7 linked regions of the Homo sapiens genome follow. The protein of the gene in region 2 purifies or fractionates together with the protein of the main gene of each other region. This does not show direct contact. Each region holds a gene or a part of one and is shown on either strand. Other genes may lie near its edges. The genes, in order: WIF1, GPN1, NBEAL2, KSR2, RPRD2, RPRD1A and A2ML1.

Region 1 (3,500 bases), on a different chromosome or scaffold from region 2:
AACTGGGCAAAATAAACAAGTCTCTTGTAAAGAGTATGAATCGTTCAGCAATTTTAGGGCCAAGTTTGAATTCACTTACTAAGAGTAAAATCTGGCTGTGTTGCTGCAATGTTAAGAAGGAAGAACCTAATCTCTCTGGGATGTGATTTGTGAGCAGAGTATTGAATCGGGAGTCAGTAAACTTCTAGGTTAGGCAATGTAGAGCAGGTTGTTTAATTTTAGCCTTAGAAGCTCACCCACAAAACCAATTTAGGACATACTAAAATTCCATGTGGCAAGACCAGCTAATTGTTCACAAAAATTTGCACTCCCGTTATGTAATATGAGATGTCAGTGGGAGACCACTGTCCAGCCAGGGGCAACATTTCTTCTGCCTGAAACCAGGTAGGACCATGAGGCTAATTCCTACCTATGGAATAGGTGTGGAAGTTTTGTGGGTAAATTCTGGGCCAGGGCTTTTAAATTTTTTAATTAATTAATTTATTTTTAGCAGTGCTTACTTCAATCCTTCTCTGCCTATTGGCTGGATCTAGAGAGTTCCAAAGCTCTAGGCAGGACCACAGATAGATGGTGCCTGGGCTCCTGAGTCACTGCATGGAGAAGAGCTGCCCTGCCCACTGACCAGGCAAAATGCACTGGAGCATTCTGTGAATGAAAATAAACTTTTGCTATTATGCTACACTAAAATTGGGATTTCAGTTACTATAGCAGCCATCTTTACCCTAAGCCATACATTCTCAGAGCTGTTATGAAGAGTGAGGACATATAAAGTAACTTATTCTAATCAAACATTTTAAAAGTAAAAATAACTTTCTTCTTAAAAAGAAACTGTTACCTTTGTCACAGTTCACTCCATAGAATCCAGGTGGGCAGATGCAGAAACCAGGAGTCACACAAAGTCCACCATTCATACATCGTGGGGTACAAAGGGCTTATAGGGAGAGAGAACCCTGATTAAGGCCAAATGGTATTTTGGAGCAGGACCATTTTGAAATGTCAATAATACAACAGGTCTACATTTTCAAGCTTTGTGGTTGACTCTAAAATGATTACTCTTCAGAGATACAAGTTTGCTATATTAATATTATTTTTGTGGTATAAATTAGGCTGTTTTTCAATTTCTCAGCCAATTTCTTAGAGATGACTTTTGGATTGGTTCCATTTGAATACTTGAATAAATTTTCCCCAGAATCATTTTGACTAAGATGTGGTCTTCTTAAAACTGTTAAATATTTTCACTTTGCCCCATTTGCTTAATCTTCTAATTCCAACATAAATGCAAAGAAGAAAAATAAGAAAATATTATTCTTTCTTACTTATTTTAAAATTATTTTTTAACTGTCTCTCACAGGATATTCTTATTTCTTGAAGATGAAAAATATTTTGCTTACTGTAGTCAGATAAGCTCTTAGTATTTAAACATCTTATGATTAATATTCATTTCCTTGCTTATGTCTTTTTTCATTTATTTTTAAAAATTAATTTCCCTGAAATTGATGTACTTACTACACAAATTCATCCACTTTTTTGCCTTATCATAACTTCATAACTTAGATATACTCTTAGTTGTGAATCAAGCTACTTTCAACTGGAACAATTTCAGATCAGTGGTGATACTAGCTTTTTAAATCCAACTTAAGAGGAGGAAAAAAACCTCAAAATTTTCATAAGATTATGCCAAAGTACAGTGGCTATATTTCTGAAGCGGGATGAGTTGGGGGAGATGGCCAGGAATGGCCACAGAAAGTGATGGCATTGTGCCAAAATTTTCTGCCCCTGTGACCAGGAAAATAATTTCAGGTGTTAAAAATACACAATACACATGGGGCTCCTGCACGACATCCATGTTCATTAGGAAGGGAGCAAGGGAAATCGGCTCCATGTCTTACCTTTCTCACAGTGAGGTCCGTGGAACCCATCAGGACACTCGCAGATGCGTCTTTCATTACAAAAGCCTCCATTTCGGCACCCGCCTGGGCACTCAGCTTCAGCAGAGAGAAACAAAGCTTATATGGACACCCTTGAAATCATGTTGGGTGAATCACAGCCAGTGTGAGACAGTAGTGTTCATTTCTGTTCTAGCCCACCAATTAATCATAATTGATCAAATACCAGTACTTCCAACTCATTCCCTCGATATCACTTGGATTTCACTAAATCTGCTGCAGAGTAAGATTTTGCCTCCCTTATTTCCAACAGTAGGGGGCTCTTGGAAGAAGGTAAGGCAAATTTTATTCTGCCTTCATCTCCTCCTATGGATCTACTGTACCTTGTTAAATTCCCACTGCAATTGAATGAATGGTATTGCCTTTCCCCTTTCAGAGGGTAAGATGACTTATGGGTACATCTTTAGAGCACTGAAATGCTCCAGAGCTTAAATTCTGAGCTAGAAAAGCTTGTATAGGGATGTGAAAGGAGCCAGGCCTTTATAGTTAAATGGGCATCTGGGGTGTGGTGGGGAGGTATTGAGTGAGGCCTTGACCTGGTAGGGATCACTGGCATGAGGTGGCAGTCTGTCCTCCGTGGATATTCATTAGAGGTTATATTAGTGTTGCCTTTGGGACAAGTGGGAAGTGCTGGTAATTATGAGCCACCTTGCCTTGAGCAAACAGAGCAAGAAAGGGGGAAATTCATGACCACGGGTGAGATACACTGGGACTCCCAACAACTGTGTTGGAGGAGTGGAGAGGGAGGAAGAAAAGGTGTTTTGAAACGTTTCCTATTCCTAATATTAAAAGTGGGGTCAAGGTCAGAGGAAGTCTATCTTAGTACTGTTGCTAAATCCTGTGCTGATCATCTCCTCCTTCCGTTGCTGTAGTTATAGAGCCATCATCCAAAAAACCATGTGTGTGTGTGTGTGTGTGTGTGTGTGTGTGTGTGTATAGATATAAATATTTGGTCCAAATCACACCTAAGCCCTTACAACATGTCTTCTCTTGAATCACCATCGGTGCTTACCTTGTTGACATGTTTTAAAGAAGATAGCATTTTGAGGTGTTTGGAGAATGGTGTTGCCTTCAGAATTCATAACAATCACATCCACTTCAAATGCTGCCACCCCATCCTGTTTTCCAAGACATGGGAAACCAACTTGAACAACTAAAAGAAAAAAAGAGAAAGTGTGGAGAAATAGTTAATCTAGTTGATTCTAGTTTTACAGAAATCTTGGGAACCAAGAGTCAAAGGACAAAGCAAAAATGTTCACATGTTGTGGATTTCCTTGTATCTCCACTGGAGTAGGAACTGTATTTTGAGCATCTGGGCTCCACAGAAGTTGAGCATCATGTCAGGTGAAGAAAGAGTGAATGACTCCAATTTTTACCTCATTAATATGGAATTGGTGATATTCTGTTCACAGTCTGGACTTGTACTATCTTAAATATTTTCCCTGGAAATTAAAGATGGAAAGAAGAATCATAAAGTGGTTAATTATGTATACGTCAGTGTAGCATGGGAAGAACAGAAAGACAAACGAAAATAAATAAAAAGCAGTTGATTCG
Region 2 (3,500 bases):
GCAGGAGAGAAAATTTACCCTGAGTGAGCTGTAAAACTCATCTAACACCAGGCTCATTGAACGAGTCAGGTTACTGACGTATGTAGTCTCTTGATTCAAGGCATCTTGGAAAGCCTCAAAATCCTGCATCCATTCCACTGCAAAGCTGTGGTCAATGATGTCAGTCTGTACCAGAGAGAAGTCAATTATGAGCAACCAGAGCCAACAAACGCAAAATTTATTCTTTTAATTAAGTGTTGACAGCAAAGAACATATCATCCATATATTTTCTTTCTCTGCTTCTATTTCCCCTCCATTGCAACAAGCCACAAAGAACCACAATCATTGTGTAGTCAGTGTAATTAAATGAAGATGTGTATTCTCTTGGTTGACCCTCCACTATCCACTGCCAAGTACCAGGACCAGAATGGACACCAGCACATTCTAGGCTCTGAAGTCAAAAGGTCTCTTGCATCCTAGCCATCAACCAACAGAGAAGTTTAGAATTTTTTAATTGCCACTTCCAGTAGACTAGTTGTCCCTCTCGTAATTACACAATCTTGACTCTGAGGGATAATCTACATACTGTGGTTGAAGTGCTACTCTACCTAGCCTAAAATAATTTTAGACAAGAGTTGGTAATAATTGCTCATTCAATTTGATTGATTCATTTTCTCGAAGTGCCTATGAATTTGTTTCAGTAAAGCCTGAATCTGGTCTCCAGCATCTGAAATAATCTTTCTCACCCACCTAAACCTTCTAACCACAAGGTTCTGATGAAAAATGGTGAATCACAACAGGAAGAATACACTTACTTTATTCATGACCACAATGAAAGGCAGCTTGGTTTTGTATAAGATGCTGAAAACCAAACATTGAGAAGTTATTAGTAAAAGCACATAAGCTCTTGCTCATCCAGTGTCAGCATGTCGGGACTAAGTAAGAGAACAGAAATGAGTTCAGAATCTAAAAAGTAGTCATCCATTTTTACATAACATCATATAGTCTCTGCCAACAGGAAAACAACTACCACCCAGAAGCAACACACACACTCTCACTCTTGTTTGAAGTAATAATGCCTTAATATTGAACTTGTTTTTGTTTTGTTTTTTAACCAAATTGGTATTTTTCAGAGAAGGAAATGAACATTTACTGAATACCTATTACAGGTTGAGAATTTCCTATCTAAAATACTTGGGACCAGAAGTGTTTTTTATTTCAGATTTTGGAATATTTGTAAATACTTATTGGTTGAGCATCCCAAATCTGAAAATCCAAAATCCTCCAATAACCATTTCCTCTGAGTGTCATGTCAGTGTCTAGAATGTCTCACATTTTGGAGCATTTCAGATTTCAAATTTTTGGATAAGGGATGCTCAATCTGTATAGTCTAGGCACTGTGCTAATAAGCACTTTCATAAGTATTATCTCCTTTATTCTTTACAAATAACATGTAAATATATACAATTTTTATTTGTCAATTATACCTCAATAAGGCTGGGAAAAGAATATTAAAATTTTTTTCAATCTGTAAAGTAACATCTTAAAAATGTTTCTACCCCTACCTTTATTGAGGTATAGTTGACAAATAAAAATTATATATATTTAAGGTGTACAAAGGGATATTTTGATACACAGTTGACCCTTAAACAACATAGGTTTGAACTGCAAGGTTTACTCATATGCACCTTTTCTTCCACCTCTGCCACCCAGAGACAGCAAAACCCAACCCCTACTCTTAGACTACTCAAAGTGAAGACGATTAGGATGAAGAGTTTTATGACGATCTACTTCACTTAATGAACAGTTAATATATCTTCCCCTTATTTTCTCTAGCTTTATTATATGAATACAGCATATAATACATATAATATATATGTAATGTGTGTTAATCTACTGTTTATGTTACCAGCAAGGTTTCCAATCAACAGTAGGCCTTTAGTAATTAAGTTTGGGGGGAGTCAAAGTTTTATATTTTGTAGAGATGGGGTTTCACCATGGTGCCCCGGCTGGTCTCTGCAGGGGTTGGCGCCTCTAACCCCCAAATTGTTCAAGGATCAACTGTATGTTTCATCATGAAATGATTACCAGCTGGGGGTGTGACTCATGCCTGTAATCTGAGCACTTTGGGAGGCCACGCTGGGAGGACTGCCTGAGCCCACGAGTTCAAAACCAGCCTGGGCAGCATGGCGAGACCCCACCTCTAAAAATAAATTAATTAATTTTTTTAAAAAGAAATGATTAACACTATCAGGCAAATCAAATAATTTTCTTTTAAACAATTAATATGAAAATGGGCCAGGCACAGTGGCTCATGCCTGTATTCCCAGCACTTTGGGAGGCCAAGGCGGGCAGATCACTTGAGGTCAGGAGTTTGAGACCAGCCTGGCCAACAAGGTGAAACCCCGACTCTACTAAAAATACAAAATTAGCCAAGTGTGGTGACTACTCAGGAAGCTGAGGCAGGAGAATCACCTGAACCCAGTAGGCGGAAATTGCAGTACGGTGAGATTGTGCCACTGTACTCCAGCCTGGGTGACAGAGCAAGACTCCGTCTCGAAAAAATATAAATAAATAAATAAATAAATAATTAATATGAAAATGAAATAATGCTGTCAATCTTCAGATTTCTATTTGGATCACAATTTCTTGCATCCACCAAAAAGGGACATCCCTTGTCATATCAGAAAAGACAAATGTTGGTGATGGCATTTGTGTACCCTCAAAATTAAATTCTCTCAGCTTTAATAACTGTCAGCCTTGCTCCTCAGTCTTAATGCACTAATCTAGTGAGGCATGCCCTTCCTCTGCTAATGGTGCCACATTTGGGGCAAACCAGTGCATTTTATTTTTTTGAGACAGGGTCTCACTCTGTTGCCCAGCCTGGAGTACAGTGACATCATCACAGCTCACTCCAACCTTGGCCTCCCAGGCTCAAGCAATCCTTCCACCTCTGCCTCCCAGGTAGCGGGGATTACAGGCACACACCACCATCCCTGGCTAATTTTTTGTATATTTTGTAGAGATGGGGTTTCACCATGGTGCCCAGGCTGGTCTCAAACTCCTGGGCTCAGGCGATCCTCCCACCACAGCCTCCCCAAGTGCTGGGATTATAGGCATGAGCCACCATGCCTGGCCACCTGTGCATTTTACAATTATGGATAAATCTTCTTATTCATGGTATCTCCTCATGTTACAATTTCACTCTACCAGCATCATTTAGGCCAGAGGACTCTATTCTTCTCTCTCTCTCTCGTTGCCCCAGGCTCTTGTTGCCCCAAGCCGGAGTGCAGTGGCACAATCATGGCTCACTACAGCCTCAACCACCTGAGCTCAAGCAATCCTCCCACGTCAGCCTCCCAAGTAGCTGGGACTACAAGGGCGTGCCACCACGCTGGCTAATTTTAAAACATTTTTTGTAGAGACAGAGTCTTGCTATGTTCCCCAGCCTGGTTTCAAACTCCCAAGCTCAAACGATCCTCCCACCTTGGCCTCCCAAGTGTAGGGATGACAGACCCAGC
Region 3 (3,268 bases), on a different chromosome or scaffold from region 2:
CCCTCCAAGAAACAGGCAGAGACTTTAGGAGGGCATCTCAGAAAGTGGGTGAGAAGCTGGGACAGACATGGAAGATGCTTCCAGAGTATCACACTTAGTTTCAACTTGGTCCTCTCACCCTGTTATTCCTTGTCCCCCTAGCCCAAAGGCAGGAAGAGAGGGAAACCTAAAAAAAAAGTCAGGCCTGGGGGCAACATTCAGGAATGTTCCTGTCTAGGAAGGCGATGGAAGGGGTCCAAGGACAGATCTCCCTCCTGATCTCCCTAAGGCTTTCAGAGCTTGTTGAGTCGACACTTTATCCTGGCCCTGATGAAGAAGGCACCCCTCCTGCCCCCATACTCTTCCCATGTTTAGCTCATTTTCTAAGGTGCCTTGAAATCAGTGACCTTGATTAGGATTCCCATCTGCCCCACGTGGTTGGTAAGGACAGTGGGGTTAAACCCATTTCACAGAATATAAAGTTGAGGTCTTGTCTTCCTTTCACCTCTGCGAAGAATGCCTTGAGTTCGTCCAGGTGCTGGAAGATGCTAGGTGAGTTAGTGTCCAGGCGTGCAAGGCGATGGGCTGCTTCCTCAGCTGAGAGCCGAGTTGGATGTGGCTCCTGTGGGTAAGTGGCTGGTCAGCACCATGGCATGGGCATCCCTGGCCACTATCCTCTAAGCTGGCCTTACCTTCAGCAGCTGACAGGGAGTCTGCCCAAAGTTGCTGATAATGCCCTCCAGAGCCTTCCGTTCCCGCTCATCTGTCACATGGTCCAGGTCTACAGCCCCTGGGAAGGCAGGCAGAGCAGTCAGGGCTCCCTGCGTGCCCTCTGCATCCACCCGACCTGATCTTGTCCTGGCCCTGACTGGAGTCCAGCGCACTGCCCACCCTCATAGGTGCAGTAATAGAAGACATTGAGGGCCTCCTCGGCGGCTGGCCCCCGCTGCTTGTAGCCAAAGATGAGGTCGATCCACTCGTGTAGGTGTGCAGACACATACTCCGACTCCTGAGAGTAGGGAGGCAGCAATCAGTGCAGGGACAGCTGACCCCCCATGATCTTCAGAACCCCGGCTGCCTGCCGTTTGCCTGTGGTTCCTTCCTCACCAGAGCCTGGCGGTGCTGCTGGATGAAGTCCTCAGGAGAGCTGGCCCACGGGGGTAGCACCACATCGCCTACCTTCTCGTTGGTCAGCTGGAGACAGCCCAGGTCAAAACCTGGCACAGAGGACTGGGTCAGCTGTCTCCCTGTCCATCCCGACTGCCCCCTGGCCACTCCACCATCTGCTCTCCATCCCTACACCTGCCCGCTCCAGTGTGAGCACCTCACACCTACCGTTCTGGTTCTCCAGGAAGTCAGGAAAGTAGAAGAATTCCGGGATGAGCTCCTTCACATCGGCAGGGCTCTCCAGGCGTGCCTGCCAGGCTGCCGCCACCGAGTGGAACTGCCGGTCGGAGCAGTCAAAGCTGGGGGAGGGGCACGGGGCCAAGGTGAGGTGGGGAGAATGGAGACAGGGAGGGAGATGCTGTGGCTGGAGGGAAGAAGGGAGCCAGGGGTGGGCCCAGGATGTGGGGAGGACCAGCCTCCTCCCCTTATCTGCCCCCTAGTCTGCCCACCAGCCCCTGGGCCGCACCGGCCACTTTGCAGCTGGACGTGCAGGGAGGTGAAGGGCTCCACGCGGATGAGGTAGTGCATCACGCCTGCTGCATTGGAGTAGTGGGTGCCATAGTGGAACTTGTCAATGGTCCCTGCTGGGTCCTCAAAGCTTTCATACCTGGGGCCACAGTTGGACGTGTCAGCAGAAGCCCTCCCCTCGCCTTTCCCTACCCGCTGAGCCCAGCCCTGCCCACATGCTCACTTCTCCCTCACGAGCTGGGCATGCTTGGGGTTCACCACACCGATGGGCTTAGACAGGTCCCGGAAGACGGCTGGGTTGCTGAGGTCCAGGGTTGGGGACACGTAGTCCTGCAGGACCCAGGGGAACTGGCCACCCACCCGAGCAGGGGCTGCATGAGGGCCCTGATGGCCTACCAGCCCACCCTGCCCTGCCCACACCCTCAAGAAGGCGGGCACAGAGCCTGCCCACAGGTTGGGGGAGCACCACTTAGAGGGGTCACAGGGGAGAAGGACAGAGTGTCCTGGAACAGGATTCCTTTTGAGGAATAGAGGCTAGGCAGGGAGGGGAAGGGAGTGAGGCTGGGGACCTCTGGGGGTTGGCAGGGAACAGAGGCCAGGTCTTCATTGGCACATCTACCCTTGACCAAGCTCAGAGCTTGGCCCACTGGCAGGTACCTACACTTGGGGGAACCAAGGGCTGACAGGTCAGAGGGGCAGGGGTGGAGGGGTGCAGAGTGGGACCCTCACCACAGGGTACTGAGACAGGTCATTGTAGGTCCGCCCCGCAATGGTGTTGAGTTGCATCAAGTACTCGAAGTTGGATATCTCACGCTGTACCCATTTCTGGGGACAGGGGCAGACAAGATGTGAGCCAGGTGGGCTGTCCAGCACTGCCCCGTGATTCAGGGTCCCGACTTCACATCCCTCACACCCAGGGCTCTCACCTGGGTAAGGCCTGAGGCACGCAGCATCTCCTGGGGGGAGCGGCTGCTTAGGTAGCCTTGAGAGGGGGGCCGTAGGCGCAGGAGCCACGAGTACACCTGGTTCCGTACCTGGGTATGGGGTGGGATGGGGCCAGGCTGGGGTCTGGGAGTCTGGCTAGGAGATGAGACTGGGGTCGTGCCCACCTTGCATGGGAAGTTGAGGAAGTAGTTGGCCTGATCGATAAAGAAGAGCTCAAGTGCTGAACGGCGCAGGTTGAAACGCCGCAGGTGGACCTCACGCAGCTGGGCCAGTGGGCGCCGGAAATCATAGCCGATGCCTATGGGGAGGAACAGCAGGTACGGGAGTCACTCACCCCAGCCCCACCCAGAGCTCAGCCATTCCCTGCCATCCTCCTAAACCACACCACCAGGACGCACCCTCCTCGGTTTCCACGCGCTCAGTGCTGCCATCGTAGAAGTATACATTCTGTGTGGTGACCTCCAGCAGCCCTGGGACCACGGCCACTACCGTCACCAGCTGGCACTCGGCCGACAGCACCAGCTTCTCACGCTGCTCATCCAGTTCTGCTGCCTCCATCCTAAAGACCAGCAACCCACCTCACGCTGTAGGCTCTGGGACCCCCTTCTTCACAAGCCCAAAGGGCATCCAAGTGCCATTGAGTCATGGGGTATATACTCTCATGACTCCCAGAGATGGGGAGGGGCTGCCTAGGGTCCAGAACCTACTG
Region 4 (3,500 bases), on a different chromosome or scaffold from region 2:
CTGGAGTGCAATGGTGCCATCTTGGTTCACTGCAACCTCCACCTCCCAGGTTCAAGTGATTCTCCTGCCTTAGCCTCCCGAGTAGTTGGGATTACAGGTACCCGCTGCCATGCCCCACTAATTTTTGTATTTTTAGTAGAGACGGGGTTTCGCCATGTTGGCCAGGCTGGTCTCAAACTCCTGACCTCAAGTGATCCACTCACCTCAGCCTCCCAAAGTGCTGGGATTACAGGCGTGAGCCACTGTGCCTGGCCACCATCACCTGTTTTTGTAAGGCCCAGAAACTACAGTTTGTACAACTATAAACATCAAAAAAAAAATCAAAAGAAAAATATTCATGACATGCAAAAAGTATATCAATTTCAAGTTTCAGGGTCCACAAATAAAGTTTTATTAGAAAACTGCCCCACCAGGCCCGGCTTGATGGCTCACGCCTATAATCCCAGCACTTTGGGAGGCTGAGGTGGGCGGATCACTGGAGGTCGGGAGTTTGAGACCAGCCTGGCCAATAGGCTGGTCTGAAACCCTGTCTCTACTAAAAATACAAAAATTAGCCAGGCGTGATGGTGCAGGCTTGTAATCCCAGCTACTCAGGAGGCCGAGACAGGAGAATCACTTGAAACTGGGAAGCGGAGGTTGCAATGAGCCGAGATCACGCCACTGCACTCCAGCCTGAGCAACGGAGCGAGACCCTGTCTCAAAATAAAAAGAAAACTGCCCCACCCATTCATGTATGTACTGCCCATGGCTGCTACATGCTACAGCACAGAGTCGAGTAGCTTTGATAAAAATTGCAGGGTCCACAAAGCCTAAACTCTTTACTATCTGTCCCTTTCCAGAAAAAGTTTGCCAGCCCCTGCCGTAGGCTGCCATCCAAGGCAGGCGAATCACTTGAGCCCAGGAGTTCAAGATCAGCTGGAGCAACATAGCAATACCTTGTCTCTATTTAAAAAATACAAAAAATTAGCCAAGCGTGGTGGTGCATACCTGTAGTCCCAGCTACTCAAGAGGCTGAGGCAGGAGGATCTCTTGAGCCCTGGAGGTCAAGGCTGCAGTAAGCCATGATCGTGCCACTGCACTCCAGCCTGAGTTACAGAGTGAGACCCTGCCTCAAAAAAAACAAAACAAAAAAGCTTATACTTTTCTATTGTATGCATTCCAAAACCTTTGAAGACTTCTATCTCCTTCCACAAAGGGATGAAACGTTGTTGGTCTGACTCTCTAATCTTTAGTTGGATCCCAGAAGTTAGTGGCCTAAATTCATTTCCTATGACAGGCTACCAGGTACCCTCCATTCTGGGCAAAATGGTCTCTAGGCTGCCCCATGAAGGCATTCAAATACCTTCATCTGGTTTGTTGTTCTTGTCCAGCATGCTCTCCCCTTTTGCTGCAATCTAAACCCTCCTCATCCTTCACTCCAAATCCCCATCTCCCCAACCAAGAAGGTTTCCCTGCTTTGCCAAATGTTTTCCCAGGTGTATCCTATGGAACAAAAATCCCAGGAGAAATCCTTGGGCCGGGTGCAGTGGCTCACGCCTGCACTTTGGGAGGCCGAGGCGGGCAGATCATCTGAGGTCAGGAGTTCAAGACCAGACTGGCCATCATGGCAAAAGCTCGTCTCTACTAAAAACACAAAAATTACCAGGGCATGGTGGCGGGCATCTGTAATCCCAGCTATTTGGGAGGCTGAGGCAAGAGAATCACTGGAACCCAGGAGGCAGAGTGAGCTGAGATTGCGCCACTGCACTCCAGCCTGGGTGACAAGAGCGAGACTCCGTTCTATCCTCTCTTGGAGGCCTAATACACATAGGTAGCATATTAAAGGCTCTGAGAAAAGTCCTGCAGTAAAGATGCCTGTTTCCCTTTGCTTAACTCAACCCTTCCCAAACTTATTAACCACAGAATTTGTTTTGTCCACAGAACACTTATTGACTACCAGCATTAAGTACAGTGCCTGGATGTCAGCATTTGTTGAAAGAATTAAAAACGCTAACATCCCACAGATTTAGGGTTCTACAGAACATACTTTGGAAATGCTACTCAAGCTCCTCCTTCTCTCTGTCCAATCTGAACTGCTCCCTTCCATGCCATCTAGTCAACACCATGTAATGCCAATCATTATCATCATCACAGCTGTCATTCATTTAGCACCTGCAGCCACTCTGTTCCAGATAGTGCTAGACCCTTGAAAACGTTATCTCTTTCAATCCTTATAACCATCCTCTGAAGTAGGGAATATTATTTAATTATTGCTGTTTTGCCAAAAACTTAAAACTATAAATCAGAAAACTTAAATCACTAGCCCAAGATAAAGTAAAAAGACAAGCTAGAATTTACAACTATATCAGTCTGACTCAACGTTCATGAACTTTCTTTTCCACCAAAATATCTTCTGACTATGTGCCATGGCTGCCATCGCTGGCTGTCCACTTACTTAATATCTACCTATGCCTCCTTCCACACTAGCAGAGCCCTGATTTTGCATGGAGTGGCAACATGTCATTTCAGGCAATGGATCATGATCCATCTAAGCCGATCCTGGTGGTGGTCCCACTTCCCCACTTCCCGGGCTCCCTTGCAGCTAGGACTCAGTTCTGGCCAAGAAGATATAATCAAATCATCTGCAAGGTGAGGAGGAAGAGATGTCCTGGGGAACCCTTTATTCCTTCACACTCACCAGGTCCTCCTCTTTCCTACCTTGAACTCAGATGTAATCGCTGAAGCTGCAGGAACCATCTTGCAACCATAAGAGAAAAGCCATGAGAATTCCCAAAGACATCAGCCCTGGTATTACTAACCTACTGAGCCAACTGAAGCAGCTATATGTCTCCAGAATTCTTGTTACATGAAGAGAAACCATTATTTGCCTTACTGCTAGGATTGGGTTTTCCATTTCATGCAGCTGAACACATGCCTAATGGGCTCACACATTGTCCCCCATATTATTTACCACTTAGACTTTATCATTATTTCACATACACATTATTATATCATGAAGTATGCTTCCTGAAGGCCAAGTCCACCTTGCATATTTTTGTTTCTACAGAAGTGTATACATGCTATTAAGTGCTGTTCATTATCACAGCACTGTTCAGGGATCATCTATTCAATTTATTACTTGCATTAGTGTTAGCAAGCAGTGAGTTTTCACCATTAAAGAGCTGAAATATCACATCTTTCTCCTAATGGTTTAGCATCTCAAAGTGTCCATTTGAAAACATGTATCAGAAATACCTGGACTGTTTATTAAACGCAGATTCCTTGACCCTCTTGCTAATCCCAGCTAAACTAGAATCTCTAGGGTTAGAGGCTAAGAATCTGCATTTTAACAAGCACCCTCATATGGTTTTGATATACAAAATTAGAAAATTCCGTGGACCCAAATGTTAGCGTTGGCTGGACTTGGCTGGACCCTAAGTTACCAGCCCCTCTGCAGGGGCCCTCCCTAACCCTGCAAATCTGGGAAATACAAATTGGAATAATTGCTCAAGAGCATTCCC
Region 5 (3,500 bases), on a different chromosome or scaffold from region 2:
TCTAGTGGAATGGAATTTAACTTTCTAAAATGATTAAGGGTAATTTTAGTCGTTTTGTATTTACATTTAATGAACTTCACTGGTCTCATTGTAAATAAAGCGTTTTGAGAGAAATATTCAGCAGAATGGTGTGGGGCGCAATGAAAACAGTTTATGCATGGGCCTTGTTTTCATTTAAGTTCTTATTTCTTTACAGTTATACTTAGTTTACTCTGAGTTTGGTTTCTAAGTCAGCTTTAGGAAAAATTGTGAAGCAGGTATCTTTGGACTCTGAGTTTGGTTTCTAAGTCAGCTTTAGGAAAAATTGTGAAGCAGGTATCTTTGGCATTCCCAGCCTTTCTGTCCATTTTCCTGATGCCACTTTGCTTCTCTTTTTTCTTCTGACATCCGTTATTTAGTAATTTATATTTATATTTAGACCTCAGTATAAATTTAAGTAACTATTAGATTCCAGAGATATTTTAATTTTATCCTTTATTTCAGTGTGTAATGAGACTTTTGTTCATATAAAAGGAAATAATTTAGAGAAATAGGCTATCTAAGGATATGTTCCAGAGATATTTTTATTTTATCCTTCTTTACTTTTTTTTTTTTGAGATGGAGTCTCGCTCTGTCGTCCAGACTGGAGTGCAGTGGCGCGATCTCAGCTCACTGCAACCTCCACCTCCAGGGTTCAAGCAATTCTCCTGCCTCAGCCTCCCAAGTAGCTGGGATTACAGGCACGCACCACCACGTCCAGCTAATTTTTGTATTTTTAGTAGAGACAGGGTTTTACCATGTTGGCCAGGGTGGTCTCGAACTCCTGACCTCAGACCATCATTTTCTAAGGTGATCTTTCTGTAGCATAAACAAATGTCATTCCTCTGCTTTAAAACCCTGCAGTGATATCCCATTGCAACAAGTTGAAGGTCTGAATTTCTTTTACATTGATCTGTAAGTCCTGTACCATCTGCTCTGCCTACCTCGGGCTTCTTCACATCCTGCCTCCTTCTCATTGTTTAGATCAAATCTCAACTATTACCTCCTCAGAAAGACCTACTTTGATCACCTTATTTCTTGTTTTTTTTTTTTTTTTTTTAATACGGAGTCTTAATAGATTTTTTTAAATTACATGTATCTGTTTTTTATTTATTTTAAATTAATTTAATTTAATTTAATTTTTTTGAGATGGAATTTCGCTTTGTCGTCCAGTCTGGAGTGCGGTGGCGTGATCTCAGCTCACTGCAACCTCTTCCTCCCAGGTCAAAGTGATTCTCTTGCCTCAGCCTCCTGAGTAGCTGGGATTACAGGCGTGCACCACTAAGCCCAGCTAATTTTTTTTTTTTTTTTTTTTTGAGACAGAGTTTCACTCTTTTCACCCATGCTGGAGTATAATGGCACGATCTCAGCTCACTGCAACCTCCGCCTCCCAGGTTCAAGTGATTCTCCTGCCTCAGCCTCCCAAGTAGCTGGAATTACAGGCATGCGCCACCATGCCTGGCTAATTTTTGTATTTTTAGTAGACGCAGGGTTTCACCATGTTGGCCAGGCTGGTCTTGAACTCTGGACCTCAGGTGATCCACCTGCCTCTCAGCCTCCCAAAGTGCTGGGATTACAGGTGTGAGCCGCCGCACCCGGTACCTGGCTAATTTTTGTATTTTTTGTAGAGACAGGGTTTCACCATGTTGGCCAGGCTGGTTTTGAACTCCTGATCTCAGGCGATCTACCCACCTCAGCCTCCCAAAGTGTTGGAATTACAGGCGTGAGCCACTGCACCCGGCTTCGCTTTATTTCAAGTAGTGCCTTCAATTGCTGTCACATCATCTTATTTTCAGTATATGATATTACCTTGTTTGTTACACGTTTATTGTCTGGCTTCCCTCCACCAGATGACAAGTTTGTCTTATTTGTTGCCCTGTCCCCAAACAACTAGGATAGTGCTGGCGTACAGTTAGCAATCAGTAAATGTTTGCCAACATAATGTGAAATAGCTAATCAAGAACTTAAGGAACAGAATTGCTTTAATTTCTGTTTATCAGAAGGAAGCATTTATAATTTAGTGAAAGAAATTACAGGTGCAGCAGTTGGAGGCATATGGACTTGATGTGCAATTTGCCCAGATTATCATTTCTGTACTTCGTTCTTCTTTCTCTCTTTTCTGTGGGGAGGTGGGGGAGGGACAGAGTCTGGCTCTGTTGCCCAGGCTGGAGTGCAGGGCATGATCTCCGCTCACTGCAACCTCCGCCTCCTGGGCTCAAGCAATCCTGCCACCTCAGCCTCCTGAGTAGCTGGAACCATGCCACCACACCTGGCTAATTTTTTTTTTTTTTTTTTTTTTTTTTTTTTTTTGAGACGGAGTCTTGCTCTGTCGCCCAGGCTGGAGTGCAGTGGCGCGATCTCGGCTCACTGCAAGCTCCGCCTCCCGGGTTCACGCCATTCTCCTGCCTCAGCCTCCCGAGCAGCTGGGACTACAGGCGCCCGTCACCGCGCCCAGCTAATTTTTTTTTTTTTTTTTTTGTATTTTTAGTAGAGACGGGGTTTCACCGTGGTCTGGATCTCCTGACCTCATGATCCGCCCGCCTCAGCCTCCCAAAGTGCTGGGATTACAGGCGTGAGCCACTGTGCCCGGCCTACACCTGGCTAATTTTTATGTTTTTGTTTTTGTTTTTTTTTGATGCAGAGTCTCACTCTGTCGCCTAGGCTGGAGTACAGTGGCGGAATCTCGGCTCACTGCAACCTCCATCTCCCGGGCTCAAGTGATTTTCATGCCTCCGCTTCCTGAGTAGCTGGGATTACAGGCACATGCCACCACGCCCAACTAATTTTTGTATTTTTTAGTAGAGATGGGGTTTCACCATGTTGGCCAGACTGGTCTCAAACTCCTGACTTCAAGTGATTCGCCCACCTCAGCCTCCCAAAGTGCTGGGATTACAGGCGTGAGCCACCACGCCCGGCCAAATTTTTATGTTTTTTGTAGAGACGAGGTATTGCCATGTTGCCCAGGCTGAACTCTTGGGCTCAAGCTATCTGCCTGCCTTGGTCTCCCAAAGTGGTAGGATTACAGGCGTGAACCACCAGGCCCAGACCTTCTTTCCCATTTTTAATGGTAAAATGGGAATCAATATGGAAAAATATAAAAGAGGCCTGTGTTAACATGTTAACTCCGGTCACTTAATACTGGATGACACTTTGCAAAGTACTTAAACTGTGAACCTCAGTTTTTCATCTATAAGTAGTTCTGTACCTGTAGATGAAAGTTCTACAATCTACAAGTAGAGATAATTCTGTCTGGAATTTACATTCCAGACACTGTCTACAGTGCTGGAAATTACATTCCCAGTTTGTGAGAGACGAATTGGACTAGCCTCTCTGTAGTAAATTAGCATATGCTTTGAAGAACTAGGAGGACAAAATGGAAAATATTGTGTTAATGACATCCATTTTGTCTTTTTTTTTTTTTTTTTTTTGAGACATATTCTTGTTCTGTCACCCAGGCTGGAGTGCAGTGGCATGATCTTGAC
Region 6 (2,618 bases), on a different chromosome or scaffold from region 2:
AAATAAATGTTTATCCTAAGTCATTATTGAGTACAAATCCACAGCTTAACAATGTGTTTTTAACAGCAGGAGAGCATGCAACTGCTCTAACACACAGGGTCAGAAATAAAAGGTAAAAGTACATTTGTTTTGTAACTGTAAATATACAAATATAAAATTTACCATATCTACCCTGTAGTGTGGCACTGCTTAACTGCCAAATATACAGTCATTCAAAAACCTTAAGGAAACATTGAAAATGTCTCAGGCTACTTTACTGAACATTAACGAATATTGTGTTCTTGAGCTATTAGAGCTAAAAGTATTATTTTTAAAGTTATATGAGCAAGGGAATAATAAAAGTATCATTTCACGTGTCTTTTAATCCCATAGACGGCTTTTTGTTAAAGGGATTAATTATGTTAAAAGGAAACTGATTTGACAAATAGAAACCAGTTCCAGAACCAAAGTTGTCCTCTTGGTAGAATGTCAAAATGTATATTATTTCCAAAGTATTTTCATTATTAATCTACTCAAATAATTACAAACAGTTTAATCAAGGGAGTCACTATTTAACACTTTTAAAATCTACACTGGCAGTTGGAATGGAACTTTTACAATGCTATTAAGGAACAGTTCTCTAGACTTTCATCTGCCCCTCAAAGTGACATCCCTGTTTTATGTTAAATTACCGACCTCTAAGGAATCAAAGGCATGTAGAGACACAGAATTGATATTTTGTTTGGGGAGAAGGGTAAAGATTATGTTGGAACATTTAGTCCCTTCTACAATCAAGTCCTAACTATACCATAATAAAGTCTCAATCAACTCCTAATTAGTTCTTCCCCTTCAGGAATTACATAGTATACAGTGATTAAATGCTGAAGAAAATAAAGAAAAACAATTGAAAATACCTGAAGAAATACAAACAAGAGATTTCTCACAAGGCCTTGGATCAAAAAAAAAATTTACAAAAAGATCTTTTGAAAATAATCACTATTTGTGAGCTTATTAATACACACAAATCATCACTTTGTTCAAATTAAGTCATGTTAATTTACCAATAAAATAGTAAACAAACCAACATTTTAAACAATTTTATAAATTACTCGTTGTTCCTTTTGTTAGTGTTTCTTTCTCAACAATATACAAAAATAACACTACAGGACTATCCACCTAACCTGTCTCCATCTCTTGCAAAGTCCTGGGACCTGGAAAGAGGCTGGTCCATCAATCTTCACTGTAGATGTCTCCCGCAAAGGGCAGGTGCATGTGGCTGCCAGTGACATTGGGCAATCGAGATAAGTCTGGCAGGCTCTGGATCCGGGACCTGAGTTCTTTGCGCACCAGGGAAACTCTGGCTAGCTTGCGCTTGTACTCCTGTAACATCAAACCACTTTCATTAGCATTCAGGGATTGAAAAAACTTCCTAGCTAATAATGACCTACATAAACCCAGGTACTATATATACTCAGTTAATGCCATATTTAAAAAGGTTATTCCAGTGTGAGTTTTCACATCAAAAGATGAGCTTTGGAAATATATAACTAGTAAACTATTATTATTAAGAAAAACCACAATCTTTAGCTGTTGCTTCACACCAGTAGAAAGAAGACTAACATTAATGTGCTTAACCTCGACATATAAGATGTTCAGGTATTCTTGAGTTTGGGCAAGAAAAATTACATATTTATTTTCATAAACCTTAACTAAAATTTGGCAAGAACATCTATGAAAACTCAGTAGGAATGGCCAGAGTCTGTGGTGTCTGAAGCAGGACTGCTCCCTTCCTGTGCCCTCCCATCTAAGCAAGGAGGGTCCACTCCAGACTGCTGCAGCCAAGAATACAGGATCACTCTCCCTGCAACTCCCAGTGGGAGGGTTTTATTCCCAGAAAGAGCGCCTCTCATCCTACCCCAACTACCTGGTGCTGAAGCTAAGTCCTGAGATAGAGCAGGGAAGAGCCTGGGGACTCCCTCCTGTCCAGCCCCCACTCCTGGAAAAGAAGTTCCTTCTTATGCGTGGAGGACTGAGAATACTTGGGCCCTGATAAGCCTCACCCCCAACTCATGAGGAAGGTGGCTCCACAGCAGAAGAGGCAAGCCAAGACAACCTCAGGCTGCTGCACCCCTCCCTTTCTCCAAAAGCTCAGCACCCACAACAGGGTATCACTCAGAGAAAAGCTTCCCACTATACCCATCTCAGTTCCAGGGTCCTGACTCAAAGATTTGGTCTAAGGAAGTAGCAGGCAGTAAAATAGATATGTCCATGGCAATTCACTATTACCACAGTGCATGGCACAAGGCAGGGAGATTCACGCTCTTTCCAAATGTGGTCACAGGTAAGTCCTGAGAGGACCATCCTAGAGAGTGCATAGATGAGGAAACATCTAAGGAAGAAACCCAGCTAGGAGTTTACTGCAACTCTCCAGGAAAGAAAGGACTAGGGCCTGAACCGAACCAAACCAACAGTAGTAAGGATAGAGCAATGTCCTTTAAAAACTACATTATATGTAAATAATACCTTAATGTCAAAGACTAAATGTTTAGAAAGAAAAATCAGCAGGAATTGGTTGTGGTTCTGCTGTGAGGAATAATGAGGGTTCAGGCTTCATAAGCAGGTGGATATCGGAGCTGTTA
Region 7 (3,500 bases), on a different chromosome or scaffold from region 2:
GACTTCTTGTTGTGACATAAATTGGGATGGAGGGATTACTAGAAAGAAATTTAGAGGGAAGCAGAGAACATCCAGTCAGAGGCAAGGAGGAAGGACCAAAGAGGAACTAACTAGTCACAAAGGCCATCGAGGGAAGTGATAGCCAAGGAGGTTTGGCCGGGGAATGGATACATAAGCTTCAGGCTTCAAAAGCTCTCCCCAGAGAGAGAACACTTGGGAAACTGTCCTGCATCTGTGACCCACAACCCATTAGCATTCTCGGGCTAGAGGCTCAGTGCAAGAACAGGAGGCAAGAGGAAATCTGCAGAGTTCCAGGACTGTTAACATCTCAGAGAATCCACAGACCACAGAGGTGGCTTACCACCCATAGCAGTGCTGTATTCTGGAGATCTGTGACTGCAATCTACTGGCTTCTTGATTTTGGCATTGGACAGTATTTTCAGGCCCACGTCCTGATAGGCATCAGAGAAATAAGTATTAAGGTGGTCCCTTCCCCAACTACAAGGGCTACTGCCCAGGAATTCCACCATCAAAGAGTTGAAACAAAACATTCTTTTTGAATTAATGGTGAACCTGGGTGTTCTTACCTGAAACTCAGCCACTGAGGCTGGTTGGCTTCTGTTCCAGCTAGCATGAAAGGCTTTCAGTTAAACTTATTTCATCATTACATACATGTAATGGTTCTGCCAAATATTATTCGCTATGTCCTTACTATTTGACTTACGCTGTAAACATGCTGAGGGTAGGGACCATATCAGCGTACTCAATTCAACAAAAATACAATGAGCCTTATGAAGGGTCAGGCATTAGAGAGAATACAAAGATGAACAAGACCTAGTTCCTGACCTCAGGGACCTCCTGGTCAGACTTGGGTCACACAGCATCCCAAATCCTGCTCATAGAATAGGTGCAAATTATTTTTTATAATAATGATAAGAGACCTCTGGTCTACCTTCTCTAATTTTCCCTCCTGATTGATCTCATGGAAATCAGTGTTTGAGGACAACAAAAAGAGGAAGACTAGGTTGGACATCTTCTTCAAGCATAAGGGCCAACAGAGGCGACCTTACACGTCAGAAGCTTCTTTCAAGATTTTGTTCCCATCAGTGCCCATATGAGTCTCTCTGCTTTCTTAGATATGAACTTTCCTTTGCCCATTCCCACCACCATCTTTCCCATAAGAACAAAATGGGTAAGAAGACCTACCCGGAAAAAGCTGAAAAGGTCCGTGCCTTCAGAGAACGAGGGCCTCCAGATAATGGAACGCTGGCTCGAATGCCCTTGGGGCATTGGGTCAATGAGGGGCTGAGGAAAGTCCCATGGGCCAGACACTGGACACTGATCATACTCAGCCACTTGATAGGGGTAGTGACCATACCAGAATGGAAACATCCCATAGACCTGGGACAAGAGGGGGAGAGGAAATAAAGCATTGATATAGTGATATCAGTTGAGAAACTTCTCTCAGATTCTGGTGCTCAGTTCACTACTCCTGTATCATTTCTCTTTATTACTTCAGAATTATTTTTATATTCATTCTGTCATAATTACCTTTCTCACTGTCTAAAACTTTAACCTCTATCTCACCTATTTTTTCATAATCCTATCCCCTATTTCGTTCTCTTTCTTGTTTTTTTTTTGAGACGGAGTCTTGCTCTGTCGCCCAGATTGAAGTGCAGTGGGACGATCTCGGCTCACTGCAACCTCTGCCTCCCGGGTTCACGCAATTCTCCTGCCTCAGCCTCCTGAGTAGTTGGGATTACAGGCATGCGCCACCATGCCTGGCTAATTTTTGTATTTTTAGTAGAGACAGGGTTTCACCATGTTGGTCAGGCTGGTCTTGAACCCCAGACCTCAGGTGATCTGCCTGCCTTGGTCTCCTAAAGTTCTGGGATTACAGGCTCATTCTCTTTTCTTGTCTCTGCATTCATACTAACCATGCCTTTCTCTTATCCTTTCTTTTTTTGTTTTTGTTTTTTTTTTTTTGTTTTTGAGACAGAGTTTTGCTCTTGTTGCCCAGGCTGGAGGGCAATGATACAACCTCCGCCTCCCAGGTTCAAGTGATTCTCCTGCCTCAGCCTCCCCAGGATTACAGGCATGGGCCCATGCCCAGTTAATTTTTTTTTTTTTTTTCTGGATTTTTAGTAGAGACAGAGTTTCTCCATGTTGGTCAGGCTGGTCTCGAACTCCCGACCTCAGGTGATCTGCCAGCCTCGGCCTCACAAAGCACTGGGATTACAGGCGTGAGCCACCGTGCCCAGCCCTCTTACACTTTCTAACTTCATTTTCACACCAGCCTTTTTACCGCCTTATGGCAGTGCATTATTTCCCTAAGACTTTCTCTCCCCTGCCTGAAACCTACCTCTTAATTGTCTTCTCCATCAACTCCCTCCTCCCACTCTGTCAGCAGACAGTTACTCACAGAGCGGTTGCTCAGCTCTCTGTCTGGCCTAAGCAGTAAGACACTCTCATCCACCGCCCGGAGCGCACACAGGGATCCGGGAGCTGCCTGCAGCTGCAGCTCCACTTCTGCTCCTGGAAGCTGCTGGGAGGGGGAGAAGCCAAGGGAAACCTGGGGAAGGGAAAGGTATAACTTGGGGATCAGGTCAGCCTGGAAAGGAAGGGAAACAACATAATTTGGGTCATCAGCAAATATGCCCCAGCTATGACATCCAACCCATTCTTTCACTTTTGTACTTATCTTTCTTTGTAAAGTCTAGCTCTTCAGGACGTGTATGCCGTGATAGAGTTGGGAAACGTGAGCAGCACAGTAGAAGGATAGAGAAAGTTTAGAAGACAAAAAGTAGAGAGAACATGTGGAATAACTATATAGAACATGTGGCTTCCCAGTATGGCTTTTTTTTTTTTTTTTTTTAATAGAGACAGGGTCATGCCTGTAATCCCAGCACATTGGGAGGCCAAGGCAGGTGGATGACCTGAGGTCAGGAGTTCAAGACCAGCCTGGCTAACATGGTGAAACCCCGTCTCTACTAAAAATACAAAAAAAAAAAAAAAAAAAAAAGCCAGGCATGGTGGTGCATACTTGTAATCCCAGCTACTCGGGAGTCTGAGGCAAGAGAATCACTTGAACCCAGGAGGCAGAGGTTGCAGTGAGCCGAGATCGCACCATTGCACTCCAGCCTGGGCAACAAGAGGAAAGCTCTGTCTATAAAAAATAAAAAAAATAGACAGGGTCTCGCTCTGCAGCCTTGAACTCCTGGGCTCAAGCGATACACCTGCTTCAGCCTTCCGACTAGCTGGGACTACAGGTATGCATCACCACACTCAACTAATTTTTTTTTTTTTTTTTGAGACAGAGTCTCACTCTGTCACTCAGGCTGGAGTGTAATGGTGTGTTCTTTGCTCACTGCAACCTCCGTCTCCTGGGTTCATGCAATTCTCCTGCCTCAGCCTCCCAAGTAGCTGGGATTGCAGGCATCCACCACCATGCTTGGCTAATTTTTGTATTTTTAGTAGAGACACGGTTTCACCAGGCTGGT

The links.
Region 1: the proteins of GPN1 (region 2) and WIF1 purify together in Homo sapiens (co-immunoprecipitation; one large-scale study listed by IntAct). This does not show direct contact.
Region 3: the proteins of GPN1 (region 2) and NBEAL2 purify together in Homo sapiens (tandem affinity purification; one large-scale study listed by IntAct). This does not show direct contact.
Region 4: the proteins of GPN1 (region 2) and KSR2 purify together in Homo sapiens (co-immunoprecipitation; one large-scale study listed by IntAct). This does not show direct contact.
Region 5: the proteins of GPN1 (region 2) and RPRD2 purify together in Homo sapiens (affinity purification with mass spectrometry, with the first as the bait; one large-scale study listed by BioGRID). This does not show direct contact.
Region 6: the proteins of GPN1 (region 2) and RPRD1A purify together in Homo sapiens (affinity purification with mass spectrometry; 2 studies listed by BioGRID and IntAct, with this or other methods). This does not show direct contact.
Region 7: the proteins of GPN1 (region 2) and A2ML1 purify together in Homo sapiens (affinity purification with mass spectrometry; one large-scale study listed by BioGRID and IntAct). This does not show direct contact.

Annotation. Positions count from the first base shown.
Region 1 is NC_000012.12:65,065,806-65,069,305, forward strand, and holds part of WIF1 (wnt inhibitory factor 1 precursor), read right to left. Parts: intron 3,100-3,500; coding exon 2,959-3,099; intron 1,986-2,958; coding exon 1,890-1,985; intron 932-1,889; coding exon 836-931; intron 1-835. UniProt on the Homo sapiens protein: Binds to WNT proteins and inhibits their activities. May be involved in mesoderm segmentation.
Region 2 is NC_000002.12:27,635,550-27,639,049, reverse strand, and holds part of GPN1 (GPN-loop GTPase 1), read right to left. Parts: intron 841-3,500; coding exon 795-840; intron 166-794; coding exon 19-165; intron 1-18. UniProt on the Homo sapiens protein: Small GTPase required for proper nuclear import of RNA polymerase II (RNAPII). May act at an RNAP assembly step prior to nuclear import.
Region 3 is NC_000003.12:47,003,666-47,006,933, reverse strand, and holds part of NBEAL2 (neurobeachin-like protein 2), read right to left. Parts: intron 3,119-3,268; coding exon 2,958-3,118; intron 2,858-2,957; coding exon 2,541-2,857; intron 2,440-2,540; coding exon 2,344-2,439; intron 1,963-2,343; coding exon 1,838-1,962; intron 1,754-1,837; coding exon 1,613-1,753; intron 1,446-1,612; coding exon 1,315-1,445; intron 1,197-1,314; coding exon 1,087-1,196; intron 989-1,086; coding exon 871-988; intron 770-870; coding exon 672-769; intron 602-671; coding exon 485-601; intron 1-484. UniProt on the Homo sapiens protein: Probably involved in thrombopoiesis. Plays a role in the development or secretion of alpha-granules, that contain several growth factors important for platelet biogenesis.
Region 4 is NC_000012.12:117,962,491-117,965,990, forward strand, and holds part of KSR2 (kinase suppressor of Ras 2), read right to left. Parts: intron 1-3,500. UniProt on the Homo sapiens protein: Location-regulated scaffold connecting MEK to RAF. Has very low protein kinase activity and can phosphorylate MAP2K1 at several Ser and Thr residues with very low efficiency (in vitro).
Region 5 is NC_000001.11:150,367,147-150,370,646, forward strand, and holds part of RPRD2 (regulation of nuclear pre-mRNA domain-containing protein 2), read left to right. Parts: intron 1-3,500.
Region 6 is NC_000018.10:35,991,942-35,994,559, forward strand, and holds part of RPRD1A (regulation of nuclear pre-mRNA domain-containing protein 1A), read right to left. Parts: intron 1,360-2,618; coding exon 1,210-1,359; 3' UTR 1-1,209. UniProt on the Homo sapiens protein: Interacts with phosphorylated C-terminal heptapeptide repeat domain (CTD) of the largest RNA polymerase II subunit POLR2A, and participates in dephosphorylation of the CTD by RPAP2.
Region 7 is NC_000012.12:8,846,621-8,850,120, reverse strand, and holds part of A2ML1 (alpha-2-macroglobulin-like protein 1 isoform 1 precursor), read right to left. Parts: intron 2,612-3,500; coding exon of another isoform or gene 2,573-2,611; coding exon 2,423-2,572; intron 1,402-2,422; coding exon 1,207-1,401; intron 453-1,206; coding exon 362-452; intron 1-361. UniProt on the Homo sapiens protein: Is able to inhibit all four classes of proteinases by a unique 'trapping' mechanism. This protein has a peptide stretch, called the 'bait region' which contains specific cleavage sites for different proteinases.